Regions from separate parts of the Homo sapiens genome. Here regions 2, 3 and 4 are each linked to region 1. The links come from fine-mapping of genetic effects on gene expression. A gene starts in region 1. Each other region holds a variant in brackets. All regions are shown on one strand. Distances are between the middles of the regions. Region 1 holds the start of B3GLCT (beta 3-glucosyltransferase). Region 2 has its middle 170 kb from the start of B3GLCT. Region 3 overlaps B3GLCT (beta 3-glucosyltransferase). Region 4 overlaps B3GLCT (beta 3-glucosyltransferase).

The links. PIP is the estimated chance that this variant, and not a neighbour inherited with it, causes the effect.
Region 2: its variant is the best candidate, but not a certain one, in a credible set for the expression of B3GLCT in pancreatic islets (van de Bunt 2015, PIP 0.77).
Region 3: its variant is the best candidate, but not a certain one, in a credible set for the expression of B3GLCT in left ventricle (GTEx, PIP 0.89).
Region 4: its variant is the best candidate, but not a certain one, in a credible set for the expression of B3GLCT in rectum (CEDAR, PIP 0.62).

What each region holds. Positions count from the first base shown.
Region 1 is chr13:31,196,624-31,202,744 of GRCh38, reverse strand. B3GLCT (beta 3-glucosyltransferase) reads right to left here and starts at 2,770. Exons shown (of 15, transcript NM_194318.4): 1 at 2,591-2,770. The coding sequence starts at 2,660. RefSeq lists silencers at 1,810-2,059, 2,120-3,019, 3,070-3,129.
Region 2 is chr13:31,362,011-31,368,131 of GRCh38, reverse strand. No RefSeq gene overlaps it. Among named protein-coding and RNA genes, the nearest start is that of B3GLCT, 170 kb to the right of the region's middle. The variant C/A (reference allele first, on the strand shown) is at 3,538.
Region 3 is chr13:31,245,240-31,251,360 of GRCh38, reverse strand. B3GLCT (beta 3-glucosyltransferase) reads right to left here. Exons shown (of 15, transcript NM_194318.4): 5 at 4,262-4,338; 6 at 3,395-3,506. Among named protein-coding and RNA genes, the nearest start is that of B3GLCT, 48 kb to the right of the region's middle. The variant T/C (reference allele first, on the strand shown) is at 2,259.
Region 4 is chr13:31,234,019-31,240,139 of GRCh38, reverse strand. The region is part of intron 4 of B3GLCT (beta 3-glucosyltransferase); the gene reads right to left. Among named protein-coding and RNA genes, the nearest start is that of B3GLCT, 37 kb to the right of the region's middle. The variant C/AC (reference allele first, on the strand shown) is at 2,787.

The DNA of each region.
Region 1 (6,121 bases):
AGAGCAAAAAGGCCTGCATCCCAGCTGAGTCAGCCACCTTGAATGAGCTTTACCAGGAGCCCCACCAAACAATCTCTAAAGATATCTCTGTAGAGCACTAGCTGCCCCTATATGCAAAGGCCACTGAGAAATGTCTCACAGTGCTGCTGCCACCGCTGCCACCACCACCCCACCATCCTTCCCCCCAACCCAGATTATATTAGTTTTGTTAGGAAAACAAGGGCTAAAGGGTTACTTCGCAGGTGGCTGTCAATCTCTGCTACAACGGGATCAGTATGTTAAAACTGTAAGAGGTGGCAAAGTGCTAGTATTCTATCCAGTCCATTCGCCCTGTTCATATGAGAAAACTGAAGCTCAAAGCCACTAAAAGCCACACAGCTAACAAATGGTAACCTGGAGGCCTGACTCAATCTTCTCATTCTGAAACTGGTGCCAGACTTTAGAACCAAAGTTGCAGTGAACCGTGTCTGTATATGCATGTGGGTTTAAAAGAAATTTTCTATATTGACTTTTCTCTAAAAATATAAACAAATATGCTCTAGTTTGTGGGGAAACTAAACTATATAGTCAGGCCAATCTTATATGGGAATATTTAAGGTATTTATAAACTATCAAGATTGTTCACATGTGACAGAACGCCTGTCACATTCTGTTTCAGCAAGATTCCAAGAACATCGTAAGTGGGGACATCTTTATACGTGTCGGTGCCCTTCCCCTAAATCGAAGCAGAGCTCCATAAAAGGTATTCATGATTCACTTCAGACCTCGAAGAATACAGCCTCCCGTCTGTGCCAACCCATGAAAGCCAGTTCCCAAAGGCCAAATGTCTCACAGGGACCTTTTAATGCATTTTATGTCTTATTTATTGTGCTTATCTGACAACTTCACAAGGCTAATAGACATCTCTAAAAATGTGTTGACATCTTAGTGCATTCTGAATGTCCTTCAGTGTATTATCAAATTTGGACAGTGCAAATATTCCCCTGGGGGTAATAAAAAATAGACACAGCAATACAAATGTGCATTTCAGCCCATATGTTGTATATATTATATACAAATATTATACCCCCAGTACAGCATTATAAAGTGCAGTGCTATAAATAGAATACCAATTTCAGCTACCACCCACCCATTTGGTTAGTTGCAAAACATCCAGGCAACAAGCCAACTGATGCAGCCAGGAGTCACCCAGTCGCTTTCCCAAACCTCCAACCTCCCTTTCTCCCAGGGCTGCCACCCAGCAATGCCCTTCTTCCACTGAAGCCGATTCCAGCCAAATTCAGTCGCTCCCCAAGACCAACTACAGCCTTCTCTGCCGGAGGTGCCCTAATATTTTTAATTACACTGCTGCCTAATTAATCATGCATGTAAACAATTACCAACTAATCTTGCTCTTTTCCCACACTTACTGAGCGCCTATAGAAATGCCAGAAGTACACAAATGCAGCAAATTAATCCTTATTCAGAGAGCTTAAATACAAATAAAAACAGGCTGTCAAGGTTCCGGTGGGCTAACAAGAGCAGTGCGCAATAACGCTACGTCTTTTCCTAAACTGCACCATTCTGCCATTACTAAAAAATCTGAAATCATTGCCTTTTCACACCAGCAAGTCTGGGTTAGAGGACAAAAACTCTGTAGCAGTCTGAAAAAAAAATAATTTTTCGCTCAAGCTTTCAAAGTTGAACAAATCTGATCATGAAAGTCAATTACAAGGCTGCTTTTTTTTTTTTTTTAACTTTTATCACATCGTTTTAAGATAAAGGGGGGAAATGCCCTTGCGAGGAGAAAAGAAATAAAAAAGAATGGGCATTACAGCAGCAGGAGACCGGGCAAGCACTGCTCTGCTCGCAGACGTGTCCCCTGATGTCCCCAGCGGAGACCCGAGACAGGAGCAAGCCTCCCCGCCGCGCCAGCTCCCGCGGAGGCCCAGCGGGCGCCCCTGTCCTCCTCCGGGTCGGAATCCGGGAAGGGCTGGCGCCGAGCTGGCCGCTTATCCTCAGGGGCCAGGGCACGTCCCGAAGGCCCTGCGGAGGGGCGCGCGGACACCGGGACCGCAGTCCTCGCCCCCGGGGGTCGAACAGGAGCCGCGGGGCCTCGAGGGCCGCCTCGCCGGCTCCCGTCCAGCCTCCCGCCCGGCGCGGGGCGCGCAGGACGGCGGAGCGCGGGCGGAAGGCAGGGGGGCGGGACCGCCGCCGCCGCCACTCGCGCTGTTGCAAAGTTTCTTCGGTGGCACAGTTCCTGCGCGCTTCCTGTGGGGGCGGCTGCTGCGCCCTCGCCGCCCCGTCGCCCGCCGGTTCGGGGCGGCAGAGGCTGGGAGACGCGAGTCTGGGGCCGGGGCGGCAGCGGGGACCCAAGACCGAAAGGGGCCGAGCGGGCACGCCTCGGGTCCCGGGCCCGGGTCCCACCTGGGCGCCGCGAGAGGGCGCTGCTGACGGCGCGGCGCGGCGGGGACCGGACGGCGGGACGCGCGCGCCGGCGGGGCAGGGCTGGGCCGCCCTGCGCCTCCCTCCCCGCGCCGACCGGGGCACGGGCGACTGTGCCCGCGAACCCCACGCCTCGCCCTTGCGCGCCTGGCCGCCCGCTACTTACCCAGGGAGCAGGTGAGGAGCGCGAGCAGCGCCGGCGGCGCGAGCAGCCACCAGCAGGCGGGCGGCCGCATCCTGGCGGCGGAGGCTGAGCGCCCTACCTGGGCGCGGGGAAGGGAGACGCGCGGGGAGCGGAGCTGCGCCGCTGCCGCCGCCGCCCTGCCGCCGCGGCTGACCCTTCTCTGCCGGCTCCCCTCCTCCCTCCGTCTCCGCCGCGCCATCGCCGGCCGCGCCCTCTGGCGGCCGGGAGCGGGAGCACCCCTGTGCGCGCTTCCAGCGTCTGCCGGGCTGGCGGCTGCGGCTGGTGTCCGGCCCGACGGGCTGCTGCGGTAGAGGTGGCCGCGGCTCTGCCCTCACGGCGCCCTCCTTCGAGGCGTCTGACCTCTGCCCCCTCCAGCCACCAGCCTCCACCCCTCCTCTTCCTTTCTCCTCTGCGTCCCTCCTGACCTAGGCCGCGTCCCCTGCCTTCATGCCCTCCCACCTTACCGCGTCACCCCCATCAGTAGTTCTACCTGTGAAGTGGAAGCGAGCAGTAATCACTTTTCCTCCCTGCTAATGTATTATCTGCTGTGGAAAAAAAAATGTAATCAATAGTTCAACTCTTAATATTGTTGGCACCAATGCTCTACTTTGATGAAGGTGTTTTTAATCAGCTCAACTAATTTACTTAATATCCCCTTTAAATGGAATTTGGCCAATAGCCTAGGTCTGGGATTTGGCTTTTAAACAAGTTTGTGTAAATGTAATTTTCTATAAATGTAATTTTAAGTGTTCACCATAATGGAAGAGAGTGGGTGTAATTTTATTCAAAATATAAAAATTAATTAAACTGGAATACAGAGAAGTGGAGCAATGTGGGAGTGCCTCCTGTTCCCGCAGGACTGCGAAGGGCTTTCCTCCCCAGCCCGGTAGAGTGGTGGCCCTGATAGGGGACTGGTCCTGTTGTGTTGTGTGGTGCACTGAAGGGGAAAGCATTACAAGTAAGAACTAGAGGCTCCCTTCAGTGGTTCTGAACTCCTTCGTGCCTCCCTCAAGCCTTGGCTCACTTCTGTTTCCAAGGAAGTGCACAGGACCAAGTGCTTTTCCCAGCCCTAGTTTAGCCCATGACCTCTTGAAGGCAGTTTCTATGTTTTCCTTCATATTTACTCATTTGTTGGATACCTACTATGTGACTGCAACTCTGCTAAGCACCCTAGGAATGCCAGTATCTTTCACATGGACATACAACATTCACCTACTTGCTAAACATTTAAGGAGGAGGAGGCCCTGGGAGTACAAGTAGGATGGCCCTGGGAATACAAGTAGGATGTCCTGGAGACAGAGAAGCAGGTGCTGAATAAACATTTGTAGGCTTGAGCCCTCTTAACTTGAATGCGTTTAGGGGACTTAGGCTCTAATGCATTAGGACAGTATTGTCTGCAATTGTGCAATACCTGCTGGGATTGTTTTGAAAAGGAGGCCTGGAGACAAAGAATTTTCTCTCTGTGTGGTTTATATTGACTTCTTAAAACTGGGAACTAAATATTTCACGTGTGATCCATTTAGTGTGAGTGCAAATAGTTCCCTTTTGTTCCATTCGCCCAAGGTTTATGGTCTCTTGTCAATACCATTTTGATGGGAGGAAAAAGAAATGTAGGGATCCTTCCATTTCATTTCTTAGTGAAGCATTTCAAATCTATGGTTGACTGAATTCATTGCTTTTATCCTTGGGAAATTCTCAAGCTTACCTGCCTAGTAGTTCTAGATTGTTTCCAATTTCCAAAGCTGTTTTCGCTTTTTTCCAAGAAAATATTCCTTGCATATGTGGGGTAGTAAACATTTAACCAAACTGTTTAATTAGACACAGAAGACTAATAAGCAGGGTCAAATGCCTACTCCACGTGGGTAAGCAACTCCTGGTGCTTAATCAATGTTTTCATGGAAATTCATCATGTTAGAGTATTACTATGTTCCAGAACAAGGTGTGGAAAATTAAGCCCTAAGGACAACAGAGAACACACCGTTTAAGTAATAAACTTGCCCTGGTGTCCTTCCTTTCCACAGTAGACATAGATAAATGGCACATTACAAAGCTCCATAACTCACATTTTAAAAAGAATTGCCTTTCACTTACTCTAGTCATATGATAAATGGACTTGCTGGGAGTTCTCTCTCCCAATCACATGTCAGGAGAGTTTCCTAGAGCAACGTACTGATGAGGATACTAACAGATACATGATAGGCACTGCTTGCCTATAACATTGACTGTAAAGGAACAACTCTAAGTAGAAAAAAAATAAATCCTATAAACTTTAAGATTGTGATATGAAAACAAGCAAGCCATCTTCTTGGGATTTACTCAATCCCAGCTGTCACCTCCATGCTGGCCCCTGAAACTTTCTTTGTTGAGGGACAGGGGAAGAAGCAAGGAGCCATCTTTTGTTGGGGAAGGCACTGTCGCAACCTGGTTAAAACAGACTGGTAATTTTACAGATAATTTTCTAAATACTAAAGGAGAACATAAAGACATACTAAAACCACTGAGAGCCAAATAATCTAATGAACAAGTTCCAAACAGATGGTTTCTGATCTTACAACAGTTATCCTTGAGGCCCAAAAGGCTGAACTCCATTCATTCAAATGATAGGGAGCACCTCTAGCTGATGTGCCCTTTGCTAAGCTCTGGGGCAGATATTAAAGAGCATAAAACATGGTCCTGGGCCCAAGAACTCACGGTCCAGTTTGGGAGACAAAAATGTTCATAACTAACTTTGCTACCTTCTTATAAATGCTATGGCATGCGTAGATCAGCACACTTTGGAACACACAGGGAAAAAAAAATCTCTCAGGGCCTTTGGAATCTGTAAGAAAAGAAGCGACTGTTGCACAGGATCTTAAAGGAGAAATAGCAGGTTCCTGAGCTGAGAAAGGAGGACAGGCGCCCCAGGCTGAGGCACAGCACGAATGTGCAAATCAACAGTAGTGTGGCGGGTGGGGAGAGGGGCTGCAAGGAGGAACAGCTTCTCACTGTGCCCCCTCCAGCCTGCTGCCTCTCTCCTGTGACTTGGAAGGGGCCTCCCAGGCACCCTGTTTCTATACTAGCAAAGCCCAAAGGGCATATTCCAACTCTTCCCACTCTCGGTGCCCTTTCACTCAGTGTCAGGCCTAAAGTGGATTAGCAGTCAACACAATTCAGGAGGACTATTCTCTTCCTGCATAAAACAGCAGGTTTATGAATTATGAGTGGTCTTGAGGATTATTTTCCAAACCTAAAATCAGGTCTTAAGGTTTAATAGTAAAATAGAATGTCTAAAACAGGGTCTCCGGGACTTAAGGTCATTATAATATCAGACCTATGCTACAGTACTTTAATCATCTGCTCACCATCCTCACACCCCACAATCAGTGCACACTAGGGGGTTACAGGAGAAAGACTCATCACTTGTACCTTACGCTTTAGCGTTTTGGGAAGGAAGATAATCTATGATCCCCGTGGAGAAGAGGGAGACAGGAAGAGAAGAGAGGGAGCAAAACTTTCATCACTCAGAGAGGACCC
Region 2 (6,121 bases), 170 kb before region 1:
TCTGCAAGCATGCTGCTAGGGGCCAGGGGAAAGACCCTAGAGGTGTTGCGATAAAAAGGTACCTCAGAAGGGTGTATGAACCCTTTAAATTAGTCCTAGATGGCCCTTGCTAAATTGCATCTAGCAACGGGTAGGGGCCACTCTCTGTTGCCTCCCTAACACAAGCAGGTGAAGCTGTGGGACCAGGTCCTCCTCAAACAAGGGAGATAAAGGGAGTCCCAGGAATTGGGGACCCGGCCTAAGAAGGTGACAACTAAGAGGTTGACCTTTTCCTGACCCCCTCACGGTAATGCTAAAAGGAGGGCATAGGTCGGAGAGGAGAATTGGAAGGCCCACTAGAGTCGAAGAGGTCCATCCTCCTCCCCTCAATCCCCAGAATCACCCAGGGCTCCTAAATGGCAATGATGATCTGAATCACCAAAGCCAGGAAAAGGAACCCTGGAACCCATCAGCCCTGCTGCTCCATTTGGGACACTGGCCCTGGACCCAGCAACCCATGTCTTGGGAATAGTCTGCCCTCCAGTGGTTTACATTTGCAGAGGTCAACAGGTGCTTCTTAAGAATTCTGGGGTTTGTGAGCCTGCAATATGGCTATTACAGCCTCTGCCTTTTTCTTGAGTCGCCTTTCCCTCTCTTGGGCCTCCTGATTCCTATTGTACAAGACCAAGGTGGCCACTTTCAGGAGGTACTACCTGATTCTATGGCCTCTTTCTGCAGCTTCCTCCTGATACGAGGGGCTGCCTGATCTAGGACCAGCTGTCCCTCTATTGAATCAGGAGATAGAGGGGTGTGTTTACCAAGACTCCTGTTAGCCTTTCCAGGAAGATACTGGAACTCCCATCCAATCCCTGATCTACCATGGATAGCCCAGTGCAATTGAGAGGCCCAGTCCCAGTCCCTCACAAGCCTTCTAATATACACACCTGAGAGTTTTTCCTTCCATTGTCCCACTTCATCACTGGGGTCCCATTAGGGTCCTCCAATGGTACTGCTATTCTTCCAACTGGATAATGTTCCGCCCCTTCCCTGGCCCTATACAAGATGTAAATAAAACTCATTCCCAACATTCTTTCCCACTTGCTGAGAAGGGCCTACTTTTCAGGGTTTGATTCAAAAAGGAACATGGCCATCCTTCCAGAAGAGTTTAAATACTTGGGTTAAGTTCTAGAAAGCCTCTATATACCTATCAGGGCTGTCTGAAAACCTGCCAAGATCCCCCTTAATTTGCCTTAAGTCCTGAAGAGAAAGGGTGACCTCTGGACCTTAATGGGGCCATATTCACCAGGCCTCTGTTGTAGGGGCAGTTGAGACTGGGACCTGCCTAAAACCAGGATTCCTAGGCTGGGGTAAACTTGAAAGATAACCTGGATAGGGAGGAGCAGAGAAGATTGATTCCCCTGCTGGAGGTAGCTCTGGAGTTTGCTTCCCTACTTCCCTGGGATTGCCCTTGTAACCTCTCCTGAGATGGCCACTAAGAGGGCTGAATCAATCCTACAATGTCAGCAAAGGTCTGGGTTAGGGTTACACTGCAAGGCAAAGAAGGCCTGCACATGGGGGACCTTGGACCATTTGCCCTCGTGTTTACAGAAAAGCTTCCTTCCTGAGGCAATGCTTCTTTTCTGTGCCTCAAGGTGCTTGGCACTAAGTTGGCAACCAAGTAAACTACAAGGACATTTTTACCACGAGTTTACTTACAGACACCAAGGCACACTCCACTTTGTGTTACTCAATCTTCTATTTTATACTTTCAATGACTAAGCTAAATGCTCATTCTAGGCAGTAACATCCCTGGTTTTCAACAAACATCCTTAACATTTAACACTGTATAGAAAAGAGATAGGAACCACAACAGCCACCAAAGAAAGCAAGAAATAAACAACAATAGGAAAGACTGGAGGTCCTAGTGCCGACGGGCAGTTGGGGACTGGAGTTAGTTCAGAGGCCTTTGGATAATACTGAGGTATGGCCTTGGCCAGATACCCTCAGTTGCCCCAGGACCTCCTTCCAGTCCCATGCAATGGGTAGACCTCCAGGAAGGGAAATTGGGTTGGAACAAAGCCAACATTCCCAACACCCAAGGGTGATAGGGGATTGACAACGTCCTCCCCAGCAAGCCTGTCCTCTGTGTCTTAAGTCCTGCAACTGCTCTAGTCACTTTTAACTGGCTGACAGAGGCCCGGTATTTTTCCTTCATTTTGACTATTGTGGAGTTTAGAGACTCCAAAAAACAGGACAGAATCGTTTTTACCCTTCTACAGATCCTGAACAAGCCCCCAAAATGTTCACAGGATCTCTGGGGTGTCAATTTTTCTGGCCGGAAACCTCTGTGGCTGTGGTGTCTTTGCCTGAGTTCTCGTCCTGCTTCCAGGAACACAGACAAGTGAAGGGCAAAGAAGAGGAACTGTTTTACTTAGTGTTAGAACAGCTCAGAGGAGTGGGTAGCTCCTCTCTGTTAGCAGGTTGTCCAGTGTTGGGTTCTCATCAGAGAGGAGGCCCTAGAGAGAATGGCTCATCTCCACAGGCAAGTCATTCAGAGGTCTCTGCAGGTCTCTGAAACTCTAAGCAGACAGAGCAGCTCCCCTCTGCTGGCAAGTCATCTCTGCAGCTGGTGGTCCCATCTCTCTGCCCTCTTCTGCTTCTGGTCATCTTCTGCCCTGCTCTGGCTGAGCTTATGGCTTTTACGGACCTCAGAGGGGAGGAAGTGCATGCCAGTTGATCCATGGGTGGCCATGGAAGAGGCAACATGAGTCCCCGCTCCAGTCAGCAGGACTGGCAGCCAGGCCCCCAACCTTCAGGCTCTCTCTGGCCTGAAGGTGGGGCCTTACTGGGCACCCACCCACTTCTGGCCAGAAATCAATCTGCCTCCTGCTGTCATTCATGGCCCTAGGGCTCTGCCCCAATCACCCTTTCAGATATCTGAGCAGGCGCCCAGAGTAGAGAGGCCAGGCAGTGGGAGCAGACACCCCCGAGCCTGCAGGGATGGTGGGGTTGAGGGGAGTTCCTTCCTGGGGCCCCCGAGGGTGCAGGCTGCAGAGATGCCCAGGTCCTGTGCCTGGGAGGACAGCCACAGCTGCACCCGGGAGCTCCCACCCCGCCAACTTAGAAGAGGCAGGGCTACCACTTGTCCCAGTCTCCTGCCTGCTTCATGGAGTGGGAGGTCCAGGTCTGCATCTGTGGCAGGAAGGCAGATCCCGCCTGTTCCCAAGCTCCCCCAGGAGCACAGGGAGGCACCAATCCACAGCCGCAGTTTGGGCAGCTGTACCTGCTCCGCAGAGCAGGAGGCCTGGGTCTGCACCTGTGGTTTAGGCAGCTGCAGTGGCACAGAGAGCTCCCCTCCAAACTCAGAAGGGGCAGGACCCCCCTACCCCGGCTCTATGGAATATGCAGCTCCAGCTGCACCTCCCTGCTGCAGCCGGAATGATGGTAGCAGTCACTGCCATCAGAGGCATCAGGAGAAAAAGAAGCAACGGAATTTGGTCTCTGAAGGGGTTAGGAAAGACAGATTGTCAGGAAACATAGAAATAAAAAGCGGTTGCA[C/A]CCCGACTCCCCTGGGTGCCTGTTCCTCTCAGCACACACAGCTATCCCTTAGCCCTGGAGGGAGGCCGTGGCCTGTGGGGCACTGATGCACTTCTGTGTGGGAGGTGGAAATGGGAGGGCAGGTAGGCTCGTCTGTTAGCGCCTCTGCCATCCTCCAGTGCTCAGCATCCTGTGCTACAGGGATTGCTGCTCACTGCCAGAGAAGGCTTTTTCCAAAAGCCAAGCCAGCTCTAGTCTATTTGGACGCTGTGTGAGAGGAGGGGGTCAGGGCAGGCAGGGGAGGGGCAGAGAGGGAAGTAAACGGAGGGGTGGGACCTACAAGAGACTCCTTGGATATCAGTAATGTTGTCCTTTCCTTGAAAATTCACACAAGTGCTGTCTTTACAAGTATTTGCTAAACTGCCTAGATTTATGCATTTTTCTGTATATTTTGTTTTACATTAAAAACTGTTCAAATGAAAACAAAGATAGCACAAGAGCATGAGTTAAGCAAGCCCCTCCTGTGCCTCTTAGTAACTGTAGGACTTTATTTTATAAGAATAAAATCTGTTGAATGTTGCCTGTGTCCCTGTACTAAATGTGCACTATCCAACATTCCTGTGAGTTAGACATATAGTGCCCTTTCTACAGAAGACACTGCCTTTAGCAAGGTGAAGAGGTCTGCCCTGTATCACATAGCCCTTGAGAGGCAGAGCCAGGTTTGGACATCAGGTCCTCTTAGGTCTACCCAGAGCCTGCCCTCCTGCAGCAATGTGGAGCATGCCCTCAAAGGCCTGCTTGTGACTGGCAGGGGCACTCACAAATAAAACCACACTGTCAGGCTATCCCTAGAGATGAGTCCAGAGAAAGGTCCCTTCATGAGATTGGAATTAGGAGATTTGGTCTTGACAGAGAACTTGAAAGTCTGCATTGGCAGTGTACTTGAAAATCTGCATAGGCAAGACATGCCTAATTAAATGTGATGGTTTTTTTCTAAGAGTGTACTTTAGGTTGACGTAATGTTTCTGCCAGGTTGTATAAAGGAAAATGCCTGTTAGGTTTGCTGCTTGAAATACATTATACCTGGAAGAGTTTAAAGTGCTTCAAGTGGTTATTTTTGTTAAGGGGTGTATCAAAATATGGATACATAATTGACTCCCTCTGTGGTTCCTGGTGTGGCCTCTGGCTCTGAGACATATCAGCCAATACCCTGAAGTCTGTGTACAATAGTACCTCTGCCCCTAAGGAGCAGTAATGTGTACAGTCCCTGGATCCTGATGACCCTGAAGAGCCTCGGCTGATGGAACTCAGCTTCTCCCAGTCTGGAAAAATGACTCAGCGCATGGAGACTGAAGACCATCTGAAGCATTTCTCCAATTGCTGTCTTCTCCTGCACAAGCAAGGGTTATAAAACCATGCATGGATTGAGGTTCAGGACGTGGGGGCCTTGAGTGACTATAAATGGCTCTATTTATTGAGCCAAGTCCACAGTTTCTGTGGAAATGTATTTCACTGTGACCCACCTGGTTCCTGAAAGTCCCTGTGCTTATAACCCCAGTACTATAATGGCATCCTCATATTTCCCCCAAAAGAGGGGTGCTTAGGCCTGAATATAAGTGGCAGAGGGAGGGTCAAGGAGACATTCGAGCCACTAACATGTAAATTTTCCTAAAGTATTCAGTTAAATATTGTTAAGATTGTGTTGCTGAACACCAGGGGTTCAGCCTAGGCCCAGTGGCTTGTCACAGAGAATGCCAATCACTGAGACGATGAGTACTGCCAGGGAAGGAAGGCTTTATTGCCGGGGATGTCAGCCAGAGAGACAGGAGGCAAGTCTCAAATCCATCTCCCAGCTCAACTAAAGTTGAGCATACTTTTATTAATGGTTTTAGAACAGCATCTTAAGCCACATTGAACTAGGATGATCAATAATATAGATAACCCAAATTTTAAGATAACGGAGAGTATGGAGGGGATCCCCTGTGGGAATCCAAGAGAACAATCTTATGCCTACCCACAAGTCTTCCTGATTCATCACATCCCAATCAAATGGAGTGCTGTTCAGGTCACCATCAAGGGAAAAGAGGCACTTGCCTTCTTCTAGGAAACAGGGGGACTTCGTAGTCCCTAAAAGGTTTTTCATATAAGGCATGCTCAGTACACTGTTCTTTTAGGGGTCTTCAGATGTTCAAATGTGCAGGTAGGGACATGCAAAAAGCTATGAAGTGGTTGGATTAAGGGGTCGCTATGGTCTAGAGCAGATTGGGGGTTTTGGTTTTGTTTTGTTTTGTTTTGTTCGACCCAGAGTTTTATTGTTGCCCAGGCTGGAGTGCAGTGGCACAATCTTGGCTCACTGCAACCTCGCTTCCTGGGTTCAAGTGATTCTCCTGCTGCAGCCTCCCAAGTAGCCGGAATTACAGGTGCATGCCAGCACAGCTGGCTAATTTTTGTATTTTTAGTAGAGACAGGGTTTCACCACATTGACCAGACTGGTCTCGAACTCCTGACCTCAGGTGATCCACCAGCCTTGGCCTCCCAAAATGCTGGGATTACAGGCATGAGCCCACCACACCCAGCCATATTGGGGTTTTGAGTGACATATATA
Region 3 (6,121 bases), 49 kb before region 1:
TCTCCATCCAGTTTTGTTCCCTTGCTGGTGAGGAGTTGTGATCCTTTGAAGGAGAAGAGGTGTTCTGGTTTTTGGGATTTTCAGCCGTTTTGTGCTAGTTTCTCCCCAATCTTCATGGATTTATCTACGTTTGGTCTTTGAAGTCGGTGACCTTCGGAGGGGGTCTCTGAGTGGACGTCCTTTTTGTTGATGTTGATACTATTCCTTTCTGTTTATTAGTTTTCCTTCTAACAGTCTGGTCCCCTGCTACAGGTCTGCTGGAGTTTGCTGGAGATCCGTTCCAGATCCTGTTTGCCTGGGTATCCCCGGTGGAGGGTGCAGAACCACAAAGATTGCTGCCTGTTCCTTCCTCTGGAAGCTTCATCCCAGAGGAGCACCTGCCAGATGCCAGTCAGAGCTCTCCTGTATGAGGTGTCTGTCGGCCCCTACTGGGAGGTGTCTCCCAGTCAGGCTACACGGGGGTTCAGGGACCCACTTCAGGAGGGAGGCTGTCCCTTATCAGAGCTCAAACACTGTGCTGAGAGATCCGCTGCTCTCTTCAGAGCTGCCAGGTAGGGACATTTAAGTCTGCTGAAGTGGCGCCCACAACTGCCCCTTCCCCCAGGTTCTCTGTCCCAGGGAGGTGGAGGTTTTATCTATAAGTCTCTGACTGGGGCTGCTGCCTTTTTTCAGAGACGCCCTGCCCAGAGAGGAGGGAATCTAAACAGGCAGTCTGGCGGCAGAGGCCTTGCCTCGCTGTGGTGGGCTCCACCCAGTTTGAACTTCCTGGTGGCTTTGTTTACACTGTGAGGGTAAAATTGCCTACTCAAGCCTCAGCAATGGCGGACGCCCCTCAGAATTACTTTTTGCAAGCACCTGTGTTTTATCTCTATTAAAAATAAATTTAGGCCAGGTGTGGTGGCTCCATGCCTGTAATCCCAGCACTTTGGGAGGCCGAGGCAGGCAGATCACTTGAGACCAGGAGTTGAAGACCAGACTGGCCAACAGGGCAAAATCCCATCTTTACTAAAAATTCAAAAATTACTCAGGTTTGCTGGTGCAAGACTGTAATCCCAGCTACTTGGGAGGCTGAGGCACAAGAATTGATTGAACCTGGGAGGTGGAGGTTGCAGTGAGCCAAGACTGCACCACTGCACTCCGGCCTGGGTGACAGAACGAGACTCTGTCTCAAAAAATAAAATAAAACAAAATAAATTTAAAGTCAACACACCTCATAAAATACACATATATTAAAAGCATACTGTGGTTACAAAGGAAAGACTTCAAACAACATACAAAAATTTATAGAAATCACCGAGGAAGGCAATTTAATAAAGATTAATAAAAGTTAAAAGTTTTACATTTAAAATATTTTGACAGTATACATTTGCATTAGTAAGAATGACTGAAAGATGATGATGGAAATAAATCAGAATCAAACAAAATACCTTATACCCTCACACATTACATAATTATTTTAATGTACTCAAAGTTTATTTGTGTAAATATCAAAGCCAGGTTTGCTTTATACTTTTTTCCCTTCAAATGGTAGAGGACAAAAAAATCACACTGGTTTGAGCTAACTTCAACATCATATAATCTTTATCATTTCTTACTGTTAGTCTCAAAAGAAATAAAGCATCCTGGATGGTTTTTTTTTACACATGGCAGAGTTCTGAAAAGAGGGAGAAAACATCTCCTTTTACCTCTGTTCTGTACTTGCTTTTCATGAACTTGCTTTGAACTTTTAAATTTATCATCCCAATTTTCATTAAAAAGCAAAGTGAGTCACCATCTCCTGTACAGAATTAGAGCTATGGATAATGGAAAAATAACCTCCAGGTGAAATGAACACTAGGAGGAGGTGAAAACTCCTACATCCTAAAAAAGATTTGGGAGTTTTTCCCAAGCCAAAAGGAAACATAAAAGCCTAACAAATGGTTTGCATAAAACATGGCAGAAAGTGCACAGATGCTGGTTAGTGTCATCTGAAAAGACTGGATGAGACAGGTTCATAATTCTTCTCTTTGAAAGAATTATTTTTTTAACCCAATGACCTTCTCATCCAATTATATCTAAAGCTTCCCAGAAATTAAAAGCATGAAGAAAAATCATAGTGGATCTTTCCAGCATTTAAAGATCATCAAAAGCAGTGGTTTCTATTATAGTAACAGGCTTTCCAGGGTTGGAGAAATTAATCTAACGATCACTGTTGCCCAGTGTTTGACATCTACATCAACAAACCGAGCAGAACCCAGAAGCTTGCCTTTTATTCCCCA[T/C]GAGCTCATTACATCTGATTCATCTCAGGAGCGAGCATTCGAAGGTGGGTGGGACAGGTTTCCACTGGGACCAGAAAGGGCCCATCTCTGCTTATCTCAAGTTTAAAGAATTCCAAAAAGTGATCAGGTTGTAACCTGGGCTTCTTTCCTCTGAAAGAGAACTGAATGAGCTCGATTTACTCTTGACACATTTCCAAGGCAGCTCTCTAAACCTAACGAGCCTTTGAACATAGCCCAGCAGCAAAACTGATTATTACAGGGTTATAAAGTCATTCGCAAATATTCACTGACCACCTACTAAGTGTTAAACACTCTGCTAAGGGCTAGGGATTTCAAGGCAAACAAAATCCAGTTGCTCTATCAAATCTGCATGAAATAAAAACAAGATCTGAAAATGTAAAAGCAGTAGTGGACTTCACTGAGTTCCTCTAGTTCAAGATACATCCCTTCCCACCCCCATTCTTTCTCAAATCGTGTTCCCTCTGCCTGGTAGACCCTCTTTCTCTCTTGCTAACTCCTACTCATCCTACAGAACTCAGATTAAATGTCACTTCCTGTCCTGACCCTCCCAGGTTAGATTCCATGCCCCTGTTATATGCTTCTAACAGCACCCTAGTCTTCCTTATTAGAGATGTTTTCCTTCTAACCATAACTGCTTCTCTAATGGTCTGTTCTCCCTGCTATTCTGTGCCACCCACATGTTCAGAATCGCTGTCTGTTTTGTTCTAGCCTCCGCCATCCACAGTGCTCAGTATACAGCTGGCACTCAAAAAAAATTTTCTATCTAAAATAATATATGGTCACTGTCTAATAAGCAGAAATAGCCAACTTAAGTTTATTGCTAAGAAAAGCAGTTTATGAACTTCAAGTTATAGTTTCCAACTCTCTGAAATTGCTAACACATATATTAACAGATTTTTTTCATTTAAAATGGCTCATTATAAGCTCTGTCCCTCTATAAGCTACAAACTTCAAAGAGCATTACTTAACATATCTCAGATATTCAACAATGTTTCATTCTTTTTAATTTTAAACTAAGTGGTTTTTTATTAGATTCAAAAGCTTCTTAATCAAAATTAAATCTCCTTTGAAACACTGTCCCCCAAAATAAGAACTGGTATTGAAGTTATATTCACCTTAGAGGGGTCATATCTTCTGAGGGTTTCCAAGAGTTTTGGAATCTGTATTCTTGTCTCTTCTTCACAGAAGAAAATCCAAGATGAATTTCTGCTATATGTTACAGAAAAACTGACCAAAAGAAACAAGTTTCAGTAATCACTTCTGTAAAATAAGTTAATAATAAGGTTTAAAACTGATCAGTAGGAAGTGAATGAAGGGTACACAGAATGGCATATCTAATTTTTTTCTCTATATTTTTCTTCAGCTTATAGAAAAGCCAGATGCTAATGGTTTAAAAAACAGCTGGAGTTCGTAAAGTTAATTCTCTCCATAACAACACTAGTTCAGGGGATAAATAATTTTCAAATATCAACTTGAAGCATTTTATTCTTTAAGAAAAAGCATATATAGGGCAGGGTGTGGTGGCTCACGCCTGTTATCCCAGCACTTTGGGAGGCCAAGGCAGACGGATCACAAGGTCAACAGATCAAGGCCATCCTGGCCAACATGGTAAAATCTCATCTATACTAAAAATAAAAAAATAACTGGGAGTGGTGGTGCACGCCTGTAGTCACAGCTACTCGGGAGGCTGAGGCAGGGAATTGCTTGAACCCATGAGGCAGAGCTTGCAGGAGCCAAGTCACCACTGCATTCCAGCCTGGCGACAGAGCGAGACTCTGTCTCCAAAAAAAAAGAAAAAGCTATTCATGATTAAGAACCAATCATCAAGAAATTTGGTTAAGGTAGTAATCATAAAAAGTAAAACTCAAATTTACTTCACTTACTGACTGAGGAAAACCACACCCTCTTAATAAAAAGACTAAGGGCGTAAAAGTGTTCAGGTAGGAATGTCAGTAATTCACAGGTGAGTTAAACAAACGTACTGCGGTAACAACGGAAGTATGGTCCATGCACCTTCTTGTTTAGCCAGCTGATGAAGGAGGAGGACACTGGGGAGCTCCTGAGAAAACAATGATCAAAGAAGATAAGTATGAATTGACTACTCCGAAAAAAAGTAAAAAAAAAAAAAAAGAAAAGAAAAGAAAAGAAAAAAGAAAAAAAGAAAAGGCTTGGCTTAAAATGCAGCTGTTTCTAGAGACCTGACATGGTACTCTTCAAACCACTTCTTTTTCCTCATTTTCTCCAGGAGCTACTGGAAATGAAGTATTTTGGCTGAATCCATGCAACCTCTACACTCTGCACCACCCACACACCCAAATAGAGCTCAAGACCTACAAGGAGGGTCTTCCGTGACTCCGAGCCAACCTGAAATCTGTGAAGGTGACTTGAAGGGAAGAGCCTGGGGGAAGTAGTCAGGGATAACTCAGAGGCACAGAAGCAGTTTTTTATTTTATATACAACATATGGAACATGTGAAAATGAAAACCCTTTGGCTAAACTAGAGGATACAATATTTGATCTACCTCATGTGCAAAAATTACTTTACTTTTTAAAGTTCTCTAAACACATTAAAATACCCTGATAACAAAAAGTTTTGGTCGAGAAATGTAATCCTTAATTACTCAGGCAATAACAGGAATAGCATAATAATGGAATTGACAAATTTATAAGCATAGGAGGAACTAAAATTCAGAAATAAGGCACAACTGTGCTTACATAAATTATGTATACATATATAAAGAGAGATTAATATTTTTAAGGCTACGAGTGTTAGCTTTGAAGCAAAACACTATTCCCTATATTTCAAGTTGTTACAAAAGCCAAAAGTCAAAAATTTCATATCTCATATGCTTAAACCTCCTCCCCCAACAAACTTTATTATATCCTGTGTTTTATACTAGCCATAAAACTATATTCCTAGTAACCATTACAGACAAAAGAATTCAAGAACAAGTACCTAAGTATCTGAAACATTACTGCACTGATGTGGATTTCACAGCTGTCTTAAAGTTCATAGATATTTATTATTTAAGAAGAGAATAGTCTTTAATGTAAATCTTTGGAATTAAATTTCAAGTAAATCTCATTTATTTTATATAATATTCATTTCAACTTCCATGTAGAAATATGAAATGCAAAAAACAGTAATCACAGGTTAAATCAGACAAACAATGTGGTATGTTAGAAAGAGCAAACCTTAAGGCTGAATTAGCAGTTACCCAATATAAATAATTCAGGGCCTTCCTACTGTTACTTCTGAATTATGCAGTAATTTTCATTGTCTTTTTAAAATTCCAGCAAATATATATATTCATGAAGGATTACATAAGAGCAGAAAATCATGTGTAAAGAAACTAATGATGTTACTATTTGCATAAAACTTTGGAATAATTATGGGTAAATGCAAATGTGAGCTAGACAAGAAAAGAAATATAGCAAATACTTTTTAAAGTTTTACATAAAAGTAGCTAATGAGTTATTATGTATCAATTAAAATTATGATGAAAACTTTATAACAACGGAAATGTCTTTATGTTTAATAGAAAAAAACCAGACATGATTCCAAGAATAAAACAAAATCCTAGATGAACAGAGACTAGAAGAACCAGGAAGTGAAAATATTTGTGTCAAGATGATAGAACAATGAGATATATGCTTTAAAAATCCTTCAATTAAAACATAGCTAAGTTTTTTAAACATTGAAGGAAAATGAATGCACCTCAAAAATTTACTTCCAAACAAGTATTATACTTCCTAGTTATAGGATATATATATAATGTAATATCAACAGCTATTAACTGAGAAAAGGCTTCCTTTGATACCTTGACGGTAACCTCAGCAGA
Region 4 (6,121 bases), 37 kb before region 1:
TAGAGAGGGGGGCAGTATTTGCAGGTTGCCTTGCCTGGAACCATAATGTATCTCTGGTTCTGCCTATTTCTCAGCTCCTGCCTTAATTCTAAACACTGTCCTACCCCTCTCCCCAAATATTCCTTCTACAGTGGCTTACTTCTCTGCTCCCCATCCAAAGTGATTCCCTGGGCAAGCAAGACCCTGGCCTTGTGCTGAGGTTAAAGTTCCTACTTTAGTGTCTTCAAATGGTGCCTGGATTCTTGCTTTACTAGAACCTACTGAAAGCAATGCAATTATGCTTTATCTTCTCTCCTTCATTGTTTCCAATTTAATCTTACGTAAAGTTCCTCTGGAGAACAACAATGGTTTTAGACAGGTGTTAATATGCTTTTGAAACTACAGGAAAGATTGTTTCAGCATGGGATCCGCTTGGTGGCTAGACCCCAGGTTCTAGAAGGAAAAAAAAAAAAAAAGACTCAGGTGACAGCTTTGCCATCACAACATAAATTCAAGATACTTAATAGTATCATCTCTAGAACCTGAGCTGTTTGCTCTTTTGTTTCATGTAACTAACAAAATATTTAATATAAGAATTTTTACACAAATATCCACTCCAGAAGGAATTTTAAGTCAAAAAAACAGATGTCAAATCATAATTGACACAGATGCAGTGCACATAATAGGCATCTGAACAAAATAAACTCAAACAGGTGATTTATTAGATCATTGCACAAACTCTCCTTATGGGTTTCTGTCTGTCTCACCTCCACTTTGCTTTTTGTTTGCATACCTCTTTAAATAGTCAGTCTCGATCACTTCACATTACCCTTCCATCTGTGATACAGGGAGGAAAAAAACAGGGAAAAAAATAGCTCTTCTTCAAACTCTGTATTCCTCTATGTGCAGATCTGCATTTAGGAAGCCGTAGTCATCAGCCACATCCCCACTCTCACCGACCCTCCCTTCCATTCACTGCAATCTACAAAGATCACATTCCACTCCCAACACACACTTTACCCATCCCACAAACTGTTCCCTTACAAATTCCAGTTCCTACTTGGCATCCCAAAAGCAGACCTTCTGGCAATTCATGTCTTCATCTTCCAGAACTATGTTCTAAACCTATGTCCTCCAGCTCATTTTCCCTGTCTTTCCTGAGTGATTTCACAAAAGTCTTCCCGCCTTCTCCTCTCAGGCTTCACATGCACAATTAGCACAGCGTCAACTCAAACTTTTTACATATTGCTACACAGCTTCAAACACGTTATCGTCATTCTCAAGGCCCCCATGTGTTGTCTACAGATGTCTTTTTGCATTCAAAAATGACTAATATAACCATAGATGCTCAATTAATATTTGTTGAGTCAATTTTTTTCTCTTTTGAGATGGGGTCTTGCTATGTTGCCCAAGGTGGTCTCAAACTCTTAGATTCAAGCAATCCTCCTGCCTCAGCCTCCTGAGTAGGTGGGACTACAGGTGCGCCTGGCCTATTGAGTGGATTCTTTAAAACACTGATTCTGTACTTACAATTTCTGCTTAATGATATACTCACTTATATTATGAAATAGTTACCATCTACTTTATAAAAACGAGAATACGCATTCTACTAAATTCCTTTCTAATCCTTTGTGACAGAGCAACTTAGAATGATACTCTGCACATAGAATAGAACCTGATGAAGTCAGCTGAGTTATAGATTGGAAAGAACATAAAATTATCAACCTCAGCACCATTATAACTGCATGATAAGCTTCAAAACTGGAGATGGAAATGACTACTTACAATGACCCTTGTTGCAGAAAACAAGGGAAACAGTTTAACTCTTCTACTAACAACTCTGCACACAGTATTAAATGTCAGATAAAAAGTTAGTTTACGCTCTTTCTTTTTAGATTCATGCTGTAATGATGAAAAATGTTTCCGTTTTTAATAAGGCTGCATTTTAGCACCTTGAGGCAAAACAGGCATAGGTAATGACTTGCCTAAGCAAAGAGAATAGCTGGAAACAGATGCATAATCACAGAAGTCATTAAATTTTTGCACCTTAATTTTTTGGCAGACTTTGTAGTCAAGTGCAACCTGACAGAGTAATGACTAAACAGCAGTTCTAGACATCTGGTATTGTGGGAGGAATATATATTTTGAGCTATCAGATAAATATTCAAATGATAAAACTTACTGCTGACTTCTGCCTCACCAAGCAACTTTTACGAATGTTCATGGTGGGCAAATTGATGAAGAAACCAAAACTGCAACCTTCATGCTTCACAGTTGGGGTCCCAGGTGACATGAGGGTCCCAGACATCCCGTCCCTTACAGGCACGGTGCATACCTGCCACACCAAGCTGCTGAGACACCCCTTTGAGGAGCCAGCCTGCTCCCACCACAGCACTGGGACGCCAACAACTTATGCCTCTTAGTTTTTCCCTTTCTCAGCTCCCACAGCTGACGGAGTCACCAGTTCTTTCTTGAGCATGTCCATTTCTTAAAACAGCCTCCAGTAGACGGGGCATGGTGGCTCACACCTGTAATCCCAGCATTTTGGGAGGCCAAGGCGGGTGGGTCACCTGAGGTCAGGAGTTCGAGAGAAGCCTGGCCAACATGGTGAAACCCTGTCTCAACTAAAAATACAAAAAATCAGCCAGGCGTGGTAGTAGGCACCTGTAACTCCAGCTGCTCTGGAGACTGAGGCAGGAGAATCGCTTGAACCCAGAAGGCAGAGGTTGCAGTGAGCTGAGATCGCACCACTGCACTCCAGCCTAGGAAACAGAAGCAAAACTCCATCTAAAAAAAAAAAAAAAAAA[C/AC]AGCCTCCAGCTAAGTTTTAACTAAGGAGCCCTCCTGCCTCTTTAAAGTGACTTTGCCTCCCTATGCTTTGTGAATTTCAGCATTTAATTCTCAGAAGTTGATCTTATTTCTCTATTTTCATTTAGTTCCAGGTGAAGTTATCTCATCATTGCCCCCTAAGTATTGTCTACAGACCCTACGTTAGCTGTCAGCCATTCTTGTTCTTGGATCTCTCTTTTTTTTTTTTTGAGATGGAGTCTCGCTCTGTTGCCCAGGCCGGAGTGCAGTGGTGCGATCTCGGGTCACTGCGACCTCCGCCTACTAGGTCCAGGCAACTCTCCTGCCTCTGCCTCCAGAGTAGCTGGGATTACAGGAGCTGGCCACCACGACCGGCTAATTTTTGTATTTTTGTATAGACAGGGTTTCACCATGTTGGCCAGGCTGGTCTTGAACTCCAGACCTCAGGTGATCCGCCCACCTTGGCCTCCCAAGGTGCTGGGATTACAGGGGTGAACCACCATACTTGGCCCCATTCATGGATCTCTAAAGTGCTATTCATGGAATAAAGTCAACTTTTAATCATACATGTGGCATAAAAAACTCTGTAAAAGAAAAAATGATCCAGAATCAAGTATAATTGCAAACCCTAAAATCTTTCTGGACAGTTCAACTTCCAAAAGACTTGTTAACCCAAAAATGAAATTACCTAAGCTGTAACAGCTCACTATGGATCTTGTGACCAAATTAAAGTTTGGTCATAACTACTTGGGTGCTCTTAGCTGGCTTCATCCAAGCAAAGAATTTCAGAACAATAACCGACCTTCGTATAATTAAAGGGAAGCTTCCTTATTGCTTTAGTCTAGGCTCTACTTACTATCACAGAAATTAAATGCTGGGGGTGATGGGGGTGCATTGCCTAACAATATTGGTTAATTACATGCCTTTAAATGTAAAACCAATGTTGCCACCTAGTGGCAATCTAAGTCCCCTACTCAACAGGCTGTCTAAACAGAAAACTGCAAATAAAGGACAATAAAAATTAAGTATAAGCGTGATAAAGCTAAATAGATGCATAGAATAAAGCACTAAAAAGTCAAATACTTTAAAGAAATGTAGCTATTTCCTAAGCTTCAAAAGCTAAGGACAATGAATCAATGGAAATACAGGTTCTAATGCTGTGTGTGTTTGGCAATCCACTACGTGCTATGCGGGATGCAAAAAGGAATAGGGAACAGGTCCCACCTCCCTCTGGAGCCTGAAGGCAGAACAGATACACTGAAGGACAAAGTACACCTTGGGGGTGCATACGTGAAATGCCAAATGAGCATCCAAGGAAATAGGTGTCTACAGATGAAAATGTCCATCACAGTGGACTGAGGTTACCTGCAACAACACAGAGTCTGTCATAAATCCTGAAGGCATTAGTAAGTGACAGAAGCCAGTCGCAAAAGGACAAATACCTATGACTCCACTCTTCGAGAAATCCAGAAAAATCAAATTCACAGAAACAGCAAGTAGAATGGTGGTAGCCAGGGGTTGGGGTAGGGAGGAATGGGGAGTTGTTCAATGCATACAGATTTTAGTTTCACAAGATAAAAAAGCTCTGGAGATCTGTTACACAACATGATTCCACTTGACACTGCTGAGTTGTACACTTAAGACGTGCATTTTAGGTGTTTTTTATTACAATTAAAAAATAATAACAGTGGTGGTGCCAGCAACAACGAAGCACACTGAGTGGGATGCATCCTGAGGTCAGTGCGCAGGCCACAGTCCCAATTAGTCAGGCAGTCTGAGACCAGTCTCTCTGAGGCCTCTCCAGAGAATGTCGCATTACTGATGGCAATTTGACGGGCCAGTCCTCAGGTAGCCAGCATCCCACACTGCCCCTCCTCTCTGTATCCCTTCGTATGGCCCTTCAGTCTGCTCCGACTCTGCCCAGCCCCTAGACACTGGTCTTCCCGCAGGGCCCATGGCTTCCCCTGGAAGCAGCACCTTCAAGCTTCTAGCCACTACCTATGTATGCTGCTGACTCTCAAATCTACCATCTTCTGGCCAAATCTTTCTCCTGAGCGTAAAACAAATATCCAGCCTCCAGCTACTCACACCCTCACTTCAGATATGACACCCAAAGTCATCATCACCCTCTAAACCTGAGAACCTGTCCTCAATCTCACTCAGCAGCCCCACCTCATCTGAGTCCCAGCTGGAAGCGTCCCTGCCATTCTCTCCAGCCTGGGTCCATCTCCCACCATTCTGGCCCTGCAGCACCCCTACGCCACCCCCAGCCAGATCCATGGCCCTGTCCCCAGCCCAGGGCTTCTCAAACTGCTGTGGTGGAGGGCACACAGCAGTCTGCAACCCGCCCTGTGCAGCATGGCCCAAGACTAGTCCCACGACCTTAGAATGAGGTTCCTCGCCCAGTCCTGGCTCTCTTAATGCCATTCTCCCTAAGGCCACCAGGGGATGGTTTTAAAACACAAACTCTACCAGGTCTACTCCCTAACGGCACTCCCTGGTAGTAATCCTCAACCAAGGGGCACTTTTAACTGTAATAGAGACCAGGGTCACTGCTACATGTATTGCCAGAGACGAGAGATGCTAAACACCTGTATACCAAAGAGATACACCTCAGAATACCAGGAGGGCCCTCAGAGAAGCCCCCAGAGAAGCCTGGCTCCCCAGAGGACATACAATTCTGCGTGACCATGATCCATCCTGACTTCCCAGGCCTGTGGCCCACACTGCCACCCCCCATCCGCTGGCCCCAGGACAGCATCACAGCCCACACACCTGTGCTTCCACCTCTCACCTGGCCACCTTACCTGCTGTCCTCCTTACCCTGAAAGCCCTCCCCTCCCACCTCAGCCTCAACCTAGCTAGTGCCTAATAGGTAGGCTCAGTTCCAGGCTCAGCACTTTCAGAAATCCCTCCTTGAGCATCACATCCCCTCCTCAGCTCCCCTGCCCCACTTCACCATGGTAGGGGCCCTCCTTTGTGTCCCAAGTACCCTTCTATCACTGCTCTTCCACCTTGCTTGAAAACTGCCTGCTTGGCCAGGCACAGTGGCTCATGCCTGTAATCCCAGCACTTTGGGAGGCCGAGGCAGGAAGATTACGAGGTCAGGAGATCAAGACCATCCTGGCTAACATGGTGAAACCCCGTCTCTACTAAAAATACAAAAAAAAATTAGCCAGGTGTGGTGGCGGGTGCCTGTAGTCCCAGCTACTCGGGAGGCTGAGGCAGGAGAATGGCATGAACCCGGGAGGCGGAGCTTGCAGTGAGCTGAGATGACGCCACTGCACTCCAGCCTGGGCGACAGAGTGAGACTCTATCTCAAAAACAAAGGAAAAGA